Homo sapiens: one gene and its partners. The protein of the gene in region 3 purifies or fractionates together with the protein of the main gene of each other region. This does not show direct contact. Each region holds a gene or a part of one and is shown on either strand. Other genes may lie near its edges.

Evidence for each region.
Region 1: the proteins of TMCC1 (region 3) and ATE1 purify together in Homo sapiens (co-immunoprecipitation; one large-scale study listed by IntAct). This does not show direct contact.
Region 2: the proteins of TMCC1 (region 3) and SAAL1 purify together in Homo sapiens (co-immunoprecipitation; one large-scale study listed by IntAct). This does not show direct contact.

Annotation. Positions count from the first base shown.
Region 1 is NC_000010.11:121,910,895-121,914,544, forward strand, and holds part of ATE1 (arginyl-tRNA--protein transferase 1), read right to left. Parts: intron 3,000-3,650; coding exon 2,896-2,999; intron 258-2,895; coding exon 12-257; intron 1-11. UniProt on the Homo sapiens protein: Involved in the post-translational conjugation of arginine to the N-terminal aspartate or glutamate of a protein. This arginylation is required for degradation of the protein via the ubiquitin pathway. Does not arginylate cysteine residues.
Region 2 is NC_000011.10:18,096,013-18,099,662, forward strand, and holds part of SAAL1 (protein SAAL1), read right to left. Parts: intron 843-3,650; coding exon 759-842; intron 1-758. UniProt on the Homo sapiens protein: Plays a role in promoting the proliferation of synovial fibroblasts in response to pro-inflammatory stimuli.
Region 3 is NC_000003.12:129,891,509-129,895,258, forward strand, and holds the start of TMCC1 (transmembrane and coiled-coil domains protein 1), read right to left. Parts: upstream 2,204-3,750; 5' UTR 1,986-2,203; exon of another isoform or gene 1,674-1,985; intron 1-1,673. UniProt on the Homo sapiens protein: Endoplasmic reticulum membrane protein that promotes endoplasmic reticulum-associated endosome fission.

The DNA of each region.
Region 1 (3,650 bases), on a different chromosome or scaffold from region 3:
ATCTTTACTACCTGGCTTAGGAACTGTGTGAACTTTAACTGAATGTGACGGTTCACCAGAGCCCAACTTCTCTCCTACGAAATCTTGTGACTGAAGTAATTCCTGAGGTTCTTCTTTCTTTGAATTTTTTCCTTCACTCTCTAAACTCTCTTTGATGTCATCACTGAGTGTTTTAAGATCACACTGTATATCCAGTTTATTTATCAATGCAAAGTCACCCGCAACAGCATCATCCATTGTGGAATCCATGGGCTCATCTACAAATCAGAAGAAATTAAAAATCCATCAGCTGGGTTATTTGATACAGTTAGGTAAATACAGAAATACAATGTTCCTATTATCCATTGTGGCAGAATTACTATCTGTCCACCAAATCCATTCTCATCCTCCAAAATAAGAGAGCTGCACTTAAGACTGGCACAGCTGGGCATGGTGGTTCATGCCTGTAATTCCAGCTCTTTGGGAGGCCAACACAGGAGGACTGCTTGAGGCCAGGAGTTTAAGACCTGCCTGGGCAACATAGTGAGACACTATCTCTACAGTAAATTAAAAAAAAAAAAAAAAAACAAAAACTGTGGCGCCCTAGCAGGGCAATGTACTGCCAGTCCCTTTACAAGTGGTGACCAAGCTCCTGCCAACAGAACATAACACAACTGATACATCCAATTATGCCTCACTAGTTTTAAAGGAAACTTGCGACCCTGAACTTCTACCCTTCCCCACAATGGCTGGATTAGTAAAAACCAGAGCAACCTGGGAAATCACATGTTAAAGAAAAGCCCAGAATGGCTGGTGGGGAGAAGAGTTGAACGCCAACCTAGAACACCCACACTGAACTGTTATGTGAGGAAAGAAACAGACTTTTTTTTTTTTGAGGAGTCTCCCTCTGTCGCCCAGGCTGCAGTGCAGGGGCGCGACCTCGGCTCACTGCAAGCTCCGCCTCCCAAGTTCACGCCATTCTCCTGCCTCAGCCTCCCAAGTAGCTGGGACCACAGGCGCCCACCACCATGCCCAGTTAATTTTTTGCATTTTTAATACAGACGGGATTTCACTGTGTTAGCCGGGATGGTCTCGATCTCCTGACCTCGTGATCCACCTGCCTCGGCCTCCCAAAGTGCTGGGATTACAGGCGTGAACCACCATGCCCGGCCAAGCCCGGCTAATTTTTTGTAATTTTAGAGAAGACAGGGTTTCACCGTGTAAGCCAGGATGGTCTTGATCTCCTGACCTCGTGATCCGCCTGTGTTGGCCTCTCAAAGTGCTGGGACTACAGGTGTGAGCCACCACACCCGGCCCCGAAAGAAACAGACTTTTATCTTTCTTTTAGTTATTGCATTTTGGTATCTTTTTGTCATAGCTGTTTATTCCTTTACTCTAATGAGTACATCACTCCTAGTTCCAGGCACAGATAATTCAGAAGCCTGTAACAAGTCAAATAAACAACCAAATATAAACACTACAAAAGAAAGAGAGGCAGCCAGATGTGGTGGCTCACACCTGTAATCCCAGCACTTTGGGAGGCCAAGGCGGGCAGGTCACAAGGTCAAGAGTTTGAGACCAGCCTGGCCAACACAGTGAAACCCCGTTTCTACTAAAAATACAAAAAAATTAGCCAGATGTGGTGGCGGGTGCCTGTGGTCCCAGCTACTCGGGAGGCGGAGACAACAGAATGCCTTGAACCCGGGAGGTGGAGGTTGCAGTGAGCCAAGATTGAGCCACTGCACTCCAGCCCGGGCGACAGAGCAAGACTCCGTCTCCAAAAATAAAAGAAAGGCAACCACCAATTTACAAATGGACAGCATCTTCAATGCTTATCTCCATGTTCATTTTTCTAACTCAGAACCTAATTCCTTTTTTTTTTTTTGGTGGAGACAGAGTCTTGCTCTGTCACCTAGGCTGGAGTGCAGTGGCAGGATCTTGGCTCACTGCAGCCTTGACCTCCCTGATTCTTGTGCCTCAGCCTCCGAGTAGCTGGGACTACGGGCGTGCACCACGAAGCTCGGCCAATTTTTTGTTGCTCTGTCACCCACGCTGGAGTGCAGTGGCACAATGTCGGCTCACTGCAACCTCTGCCTCCCAGGTTCAAGCGATTCTCCTGCCTCAACCTCCCAAGTAGCTGGGACTACAGGCGCCTGCCACCACGCCAGGCTAATTTTTTGTATTTTTAGTAGAGACAGGGTTTCACCATGTTAACCAGAATGGTCTCCATCTCCTGACCTCATGATCCGCCTGCCTCGGCCTCCCAAGGTGCTGGGATTACAGGCGTGAGCCACTGCCCCCGGCCCCAATATGAAAATTTAAAGAAATAAAACCAAAATTAGTAAAAAGACTAAGAAAAAAAGCAAATCATGTGTAACTAAAGTTAAATAAATGCTATTATGTTTTAGCAAAGCCACTCACAATTCAAAACTGATCACACAAATAAGAGGATTTCAAACAGTATAATTTACTGAAGTAAAGCCTTATTCAAACACAGAAAAGCTGATCTTTATTCAGCATTAAAAGGAATAGGGCAATCTTGTCCAAGCTGCATGTAAGCACTTGCTTCTTGAGAGACAATGGCACTTTCTATTTACTTCATAAGGATAGTATTAGGATCAAGAAAGATGAGTTATCAAAGCATTCTGGAAACAGATATTTTGATAAACTCCAAGAAATCACAAATTTAACATGATCCTCAATATTCTTTCCACGCTAAACTCTTCTGATATATATTCCCATGCCTTGACTTGGGGGCCGATGGTAACAGTAATAGCAGTGCTAACAGTAGTCGCTGTCATCATAGTAGTAGCAGTACATGACTGTATTAATGACCCTTCCCCTTCCCAAGATGACTGAAAGTGGGACCGTTGCAAAGACAGATAGTAAATCGTTTTTAGACCCAGCCCATCTTACCCTCACAACTTCCTTTGGGAACCTCCCCTTTAGCTAGAAATTTCAACATTTTTTTCAAAACCTTCTTGTGAGATTTTGAAGGCTGAAATTGTAAAGGTCGGCACCTAGGAAAGCAAAATAAATATTTAAAAAGTGAACTCAAACCTTGAAGAAATGAAATCAGTTCTGGATATCACCTAGTACAATGAGACCATCTCATGCCTGAGATTTCTGGTTAAAGATGGGGCTTAATGTAGCCTCTAATCCCAGCCCACATCACACTAAGATTATAGTTAAGAGATTTTTTTTTTCTTTTGAGATAGAGTCTCACTCTGTCGCCCAGACTGGAGTACACTGGCACCATCTTGGCTCACTGCAACCTCTGCCACTCAGGTTCAAGTGATTCTCCTGCCTCAGCCTCCTGAGTAGCTGGGATTACAGGCATGCACCACCATGCCCTACTAATTTTTATATTTTCAGTAGAGACAGGGTTTCACCATGTTGGTCAGGCTGGTCTCAAACTCCTGAACTCGTGATCCACCTGCCTCGGCCTCCCAAAATGCTGGGATTACGTGCATGAGCCACCATTCCCAGCAAGAGATTTTTTTTTTTTTTAAAGAGAGAAAGACATAAAACACTAGAAAAAAGAGAAGGACAGAAGTGTTAGAAGCTGGAAAACAGATATACAAAGCAATGCTGTTTTAACAGACCAAAGAAAGTTGAATCCTAGGCCAACAGTGGAAAAAAAAAAAGCCAATTTTCTCTATATTACCCTT
Region 2 (3,650 bases), on a different chromosome or scaffold from region 3:
GTTAGGTTCAGAGAGTAGAGGTCTTAAGCAGCAGGCTGAGTTTAGAATGGTTTTCAAGCAATGGTGGATTTTGTCAGTAAAAAAGAGAAATCAACTGAAAAATGGGAGGCCCAGGCTCTGTTCCTTGTTCTGATACATACTAGCAGCATAACAGTGGTTATGCCTAACTCGTCTCCACAGCTGGTAAATGAAAGTGCTAATTTCCCTGGTCCGGCCTGAATCTAAAATTCTATGATTTTCATAATTTTAAATTATTAAATTATTAATAATTTAATATTTTAAATTATTACAGGCATTTAGCTCACGCTTATAATCCCAGCACTTTGGGAGGCCAAGGTGGGAGGATCACTTGAGGCCAGGAGTTCAAGACCAGCCTGGGCAACATAAGGAGACCTTTGTCTCCACAAAATAAAAATAAAAATTAGCTGGGTGTGGTGGCTTACACCTATACTCCCAGTTACTTGGGAGGCTGAGGTGGGAGGGTCCCTTGAGCCCAGGAGGTCAAGACTGCAGTGAGCCGTGATCACGCCACTGCACTCCAAGCCCTGGAGACATAGTGAGACCCTGTCTCAAAAATAAAATAAAATAAATTTAAATAGCAAATTACCTAGGACCTGGCAATGTTCAATTAACATCTACAGGCTGATTTGTTGATTTATGGTCAGTAAGAAAATCAAAGTGAGAAAAATAAAAGACTATCCAGCACTATCTGTTCTTATTGCTTCAAAGAAGAAGGCTTTAGAAATGTACATACTTACTCTTAATCGAGGACACTTGGACTTGGCCAGTACTCCCATGAATATATCAGGAGCATTAAATTCTTGGAGAAATAAAGCCACGTCCTGAAAAGAAAAATGATTATTAACTTGGATGTTGAATATTCCTCCCTAAACCCTAAAGCTCAGGCAACCATAAAATTCTATATTAAAATTAGAATTTTACGCCAGGCGCAGTGGCTGACACCTGTAATCCTAGCACATTGGGAGGCCAAGGCTGGCAGATTGCCTGAGCTCAGGAGTTCAAGACCAGCTGGGCAACACGGTGAAACCCTGTCTCTACTAAAAATACAAAAAAATTAGCCGGGCATGGCGGCATGCACCTGTAGTCCCAGCTACTCAGGAGGCTGAGGCAGGCGAATCGCTAGAACCCGGGAGGCAGAGGTTGCAGTGAGCTGAGATCACGCCACTGCACTCCAGCCTGGGTGACAGAGCGAGACTCTGTCTCCAAAAAAAATAAAAAAATAAAATAAAATTAGAATTTTAGACACAAGAAAAAAAAAACACAGGCTTAGGAACTGTGTCAACAGACAAAAGTGATGTTAGAGAGTCTTTATGGTAACTAGTCCCAGACAATGGAACAATTTCATAAACAAATCTAAACTACCTACAATACTCCAGAGGATTATCCCACTCTTTTCTGCCCGAATCTATTTACCTTAATAATTTTTCTGCCCACTAGGAATTCTCATTAAACACATTCAAACACATTTGGTGATTACCTATCAGGTATTAAACTAGAAGCGGGGGACAAGGGAAAAAAGCAACACGCTGGGCGCAGTGGTTCACACCTGTAATCCTAACACTTTGGGAGGCTGGTTAGAAGGCCGAGGTGGGTGGATTACTTGAGCCCAGCTTGGGCAAACATAGTGAAAACCCATATCCACAAAAAATACGAAAATTAGCCAGGTGTGGTGGCACATGCCTGCAGTCCCAGCTACTTGGGAGGTTGAGGTGGGAGGATCACTTGAGCCTGGGGAGCTCAAGGTTGCAGTGAGCCATGACTTTGCCACTGTACTCCAGCCTGGGCAACACAGCGAGAAAAAAAGGAAAAAAAAAAAAAAGGTAAAACTTGGCTGGGCGAGGTGGCTCACGCCTGTAATCCTAACACTTTGGGAGGCCAGGACAGGCGGATCACTTGAGCCCAGGAGTTCGAGACCAGCCTAGGCAAACATAGTGAAACGCCATCTCTACAAACAATACAAAAATTAGCTGGGCATGGTGGTGTACCATCTGTAGTCCCACCTACTCAGGAGGCTGAGGTGGAAGGATTGCTTGAACCCGTGAGGCAGAGGGTGCAGTGAGCTGAGATCTCGCCACTGCACTCTAGCCTGGGCGACAGAGTGAGACTTTGTCTCAAACAAAAACAAAATTCCTTCTTGTCCTCCAAGAGCTTAAAACACGGTAGGGGAAAGAAGTCAAGAACTGCTATTGGGTCCTGTCCAAAACCAGAATTTGTGTTTTCAAAATCATCAATAGAATAAAAATTCTGATCACAATGTAACTGTGGCAGCCTCATAACTTCTTCCTACAGAGTCTGCCACAGTGCCTAAAGGGGCGTAACACACAGGTGACATGTGAGTGGACATGTGGCCCCAAATGAGCCAAATCTCACCTAGGAATGTAAGACACAAAAGCTAAGTCAGTTTGCTTGGGGACCTGCAATGTAAAATATATAAATAAAATTAAGTCTCTGGCTGTCCACTGCTTCAGATTTTCACTAAATGTGAGGTGTGTATTTGAGAAGCCTTAACTTAAAATATAAGCTGCATGGCTTATGTGAAAATTAAGGGCCCTGGAACATCTCAAAGAGACAGGCAATTATTCTCCACAGCAAGTGAAACCAGTAACCTGCCAGACAACTGACTGAGAGAGACACACTCTACTTACTAAAGGACCATGGTCAGAGAAAATAGTATTTTCAAAGATACACTCTAAACTGAAAGTCATAATGGCAGATTCTCTTCACTGTAAGTGATCAAGCTGTCCTGTGGGCAATTCTTTGCCACATGCAGAAATTTTTAAATTTAATGGTAATTCCTGGAGTAGCACAAGGGTGGCCTAACAATATCAACACCAACAGTAATAAAATTAACATTCATTGAACAAGTATTAAATGCCAGGCACAGTGAAGTGGCTTGCATGCTATCTCATTTAATTCTCAAAACAACTCTATCAACTAGTTATCATTGTTAGCCCCATTACACTCATAAGCAAACTGAAGTTTAAAAAGTGTAGCAACCTGCCCAAGATTATACAGTCTCAGCAGAGCAAAGCTAGGATTTGAACCCATGAGTCTGATTTGAGCCTATGGTCTTGTTTTTTAAAAGAGATGGGGGTCTTGCTATCCTGTCCATACTGGAGCAGTGGCTATTCACAGATTCACAGGCATTATCATAGCTCACTGCAGCCTCCAACTACTGGGCTCAAGTGATCCTCCTGCCTCAGCCTCCCAAATAGCTGGGAATACAGGCAAGTACCCAGCGAGACTATGTTCTTAACCAGCACAACATGCTACCTCTCAGGTATTCATCTATTCATTCATTACTCCCCAAATATTTTCTGAAAAACCTAATAGGCACTGTTTTAGGTTCTGGGGATACATCAGTGAACAAGCTAAATAAGGGCTCAGTCCCATGGAATTTTCATTCTAAAGAAATGAACAAACAATAAATATAAAACAACTAAACTACACAATTTCTAAATGCTACAAAGAAAATAAGATATGTGCTAGAAACCAAGATAAAGCGGGCTACTTTAGACATGACATTGAAAAGAAGGCATTTCAGAAGGGGTGACATTATGCTTTGATGAGAAGGAATTTAAATCCATCAGAGGACACATGTAACAGAGTGAAGCAATTCTGTGGGAACA
Region 3 (3,750 bases):
TTGCAAAAGAGATCATATGGCCCAAAAACCCTGGTATGTACTGTACTTCCTGGTCCTTTACCAAAAAAAGCTTACTAACCACTGATTTATATCATTATCTGAAATGATCCTATTTGCTTGTTTGTTGTATATTCCTCATTCCCATACATACAGAATAAAGCTTAATTAGGGAAGAGGCCTTGTCTGTTTTGTCCCAACAATGTAGCCCAGTACTTAGAAAACATCCTGGAACAAAGTAAGGGCTCAATAAACATTTGATGAATTAATGAATGATCCATAAATGCCACTCTGAGGAGCTTAAACCTAAGCCCTGAGCCATTATATGTTCTGCACATTTATGAGAGGCATAAGCAGTCTTGCAGAAAAGGGGAAATATTCTACTATCAAGAAGGCCCAGTTTAAAGTAATGGTGGTTGGTCACCAACTAGTCTAGGGCACTGGGGTTCTTCATCAAATTGTAGACTACAGGTCTTTTGTGCTCATAAAAGAGTCCTTCTGCAAGGTGTCCCAACACTGTCAGCGGTCTGTGCTTCTGTTTATCTTAAGATGCAAATGCTCTGAGAAATCTCATTCTTATACACAGTACACAGCACCTACACCATACCAAATCTTAATCAATGCTCATAATTATAACAGTTCTACATCACATGCTAATGAATTTTTAACGTCTAAAATTTTCCTATGCTGCTGATCAGCAATCTATAAGCAGCTCAAAACTCTTCAGAAATTAAAAGGTTACCACCCACAGACCAGAAGCAGCTTTTTAATCTTTCTACACTAGCCAGAGAGTGGGTGATTGCAAAAAAATACAAGCCAACTCTGTTGGTAGAGGACAGGGTTATTAAGTTAAAATCCCATCTATAAGCATCGTTTTGTCACATGACACTAGTAAAACTACCACCTACTCACAATTTGAGTTTCAATCTCCTAATATACAGAGAAAAAAATGTATCTACCTCCTGGAACAAATCAAAGTTTTGTTTTATTTTAAAGCAGCTATCTGATATTTATGCCCTGGATTTTTTTTTTTTAAGAACAGAATAAGCTAATTTAGGAATTCACACCTTTCGTAGAGATGCTTATGGTACAGGTACCTCTGACGGCTAGGCTCTACCAACACTAACGTGTAACGTGTCACAAAAGCCAACGGGCGTTGCGGGGGCCGGGGGTAGCCAACAGCTCAAGTGGGCTGCTTCACTCCGTGGCAGATTCACCTGGGGATTCCTCACCAAGAATGTTGTTAAGGGACGAACCAAACCAACCACAAATGATACCCCTTTACCGAGGCTGAAAAAGCAGAGATTCGCAAGCTATAAACGAATCTCTGGCCCTTTAGGGAAGGTGCAACTCGCTGCACCTCTTTCCCCTATCCTACAGGGGTTAACAGGGGGCATCCTGAGGCCGAGACCAAGCCCAGCCAGCTCCTCCTCACATCCCACCTCCCACTACATATTCTCCCCAGTACGCCGGGCTCCCTCCTCCCCTCGAAAGACAGTTCAAAATCAAAACAATAGGTGCAAAACTGGTTTCAGGTGGAAATGGCTGAGTCCTGGTGGCTAACTTCTGGGACGCCATGGCGATCGAGGGCTCCTAAAACCCCAGATTCCGACGGGAACCGGCTCCTAAACAGTCCCTCGGGCCTCGGCCCGACTTCTCACACGCCCCTCCCTCACCTCGGCCCTGGGATGCTGGGAAGGGAACGAGGCGAGGGGCTGGAGGGGAACCCCAGGTCAAAATGACAGCGGAATGAGCCGGGAAAGGAAAGAGGCCCCGTGGGATGCTGGGGGTCGAGTCCTAGGCCCGGGGCTTCAACCTCGAACGGGGGCGACGGCAGGTCCCAGCCCCGACAGGCCGCGAGCGGGAGGCCAGGCCCGCGTCCGCTGCGCCGCCAGGCCACGCTCCCTCACGACTGTCCCCACCCACCGCGGAGGGCCGTGAGGGGGCCGCGACCGCCGCCAGCGTCCGGGGCGGGGGCGCTCACTCACCGGCGGGGAGGGGAGGAGCAGCCGGCGTCTCCGCCAGCGCCGTCGCTCGAGCTCAAGCGCCTGCTCCTTCCACTGCGGCCGCCGCACCCGGTCCATCCCCCACAACCACCCCCCCCTCCCGACCCTCCCCCCGCGCCGCCTCAGCCGCCGCCGCCTCAGTCACCGCCACCGCCGCCGCCGCCTCAGCCCCGGCGCGGGAGGGCGAACCGGCGCGAGAGAGCGAGCGCGCGCGCGCCCCCGCCACAGCCGCCACCGCCCACAACCTCCGCCCCCGGCCGGCGGCGCACGCGCAAGGGAGCGGGCGGACGGGCGCGCGCACGCCGCAGGGGCGGGGATGGGCCCTGGAAGGCGTGGCCCCTCCCCTAGCCCGCCTTCCCACGCGGTCTCTGGGCTGGTTGAGCTGCGCCGCTGCAGGTAGTGCTGAGTTGCTCCAGGTAAGCTCCTCCTCTCAAAAAGCTCTAGGAACCGAGCCACCCTCGCCCTAGGAGCAACGCCCCTGAGTAATATGGGGTTTCGTCGGATTTCTGCCCGCCGCTCTGGATCACACGTTTGTTCTCCCTATTTGAGTCGCAAGGCCTTCCTTCATTCCACCTAGCAGGCTGCTTGGAAAAGGGCAGAGACTCATTACTTTGCACCAGGTATTACCACTGAAGGGATTGTAAGCAGCCACCAGCCCATCCCTTTATAATTCCCATTTTCCTAATTTATTTTATTTTTATTACTTATGTAATGAGGCTTCTTCCGTGTTCAAGGAGCTGGGAGTACCATATGGGGTCAACGGAGTCCCTGGTCTCATGAAGTTTGAGATCTGGTGGAGAAGGAAAACATTCATGGGAGAATCAGACAAAATTAAGTTTTCAATTAGTAAAAATCTTCTGAGAGGTATATGGTACTAAGAGAATCTTTATGGGGGAATTGATTTAGTTGAGGATGAAGAGGGTAGAATCTGAGGAATTGAGTTGGGAGGAGTTAGTTGCTCCAAGGGGTGAGGTCTTGGCATGGCCAGAATGGGGAGCGCTAAAGAATATTGAATGTGGAGTAGACTGCGAGTGTGGGAAGAGGTAGGCGAGAACAGGTGAGGATTGGGGACCTATTTATTTATTTATTTATTGAGACAGAGTCTCACTCTGTCACCCAGGTCACCCAGGCTGGAGTGCAATGGCTCGATCTCAGCTCACTGCAACCTCCGCCTCCTGGGTTCAAGCGATTCTCCTGTCTCAGCCTCCGGAGTAGCTGGACTACCAGCGCACGCCAGCGCACCTGGCTAATTTTTGTATTTTTAGTAGAGATGGGGTTTCGCCATCTTGGCCAGGCTGGTCTGGAACTCCTGACCTTGTGATCTGCCCGCCTCGGCCTCCCAAAGTGCTGGGATTGCAGGCATGAGCCACCACACCCGGCCGGATTTGGGACTTTAATCTGAGTGCTTGGTAGAAGCTATTCAGGTTTTTTTCAGCAGGGTTGCAGGGGAAATAACTTGATCATTATGTCTGTTTTTTGTTTTTGAGAGGCAGACTGGAGTGCAGTGGCGCGATCTCGGCTCCCTGCAATCTCTGCCTCCCGGGTTCAAGTGATTTTCCTGCCTCAGCCTCCCTAGTACCTGGGACTACAGGTGCACGCCACTGCACCCAGCTAATTTTTTTAGTATTTTTAGTAGAAACGGGGTTTCACCATGTTGGCCAGGATGGTCTGAATCTCCTGACTTCATGATCCACCCACCTCGGCCTCCCAAAGTGCTGGGATTACAGGTGTGAGCCACCTTGCCCCC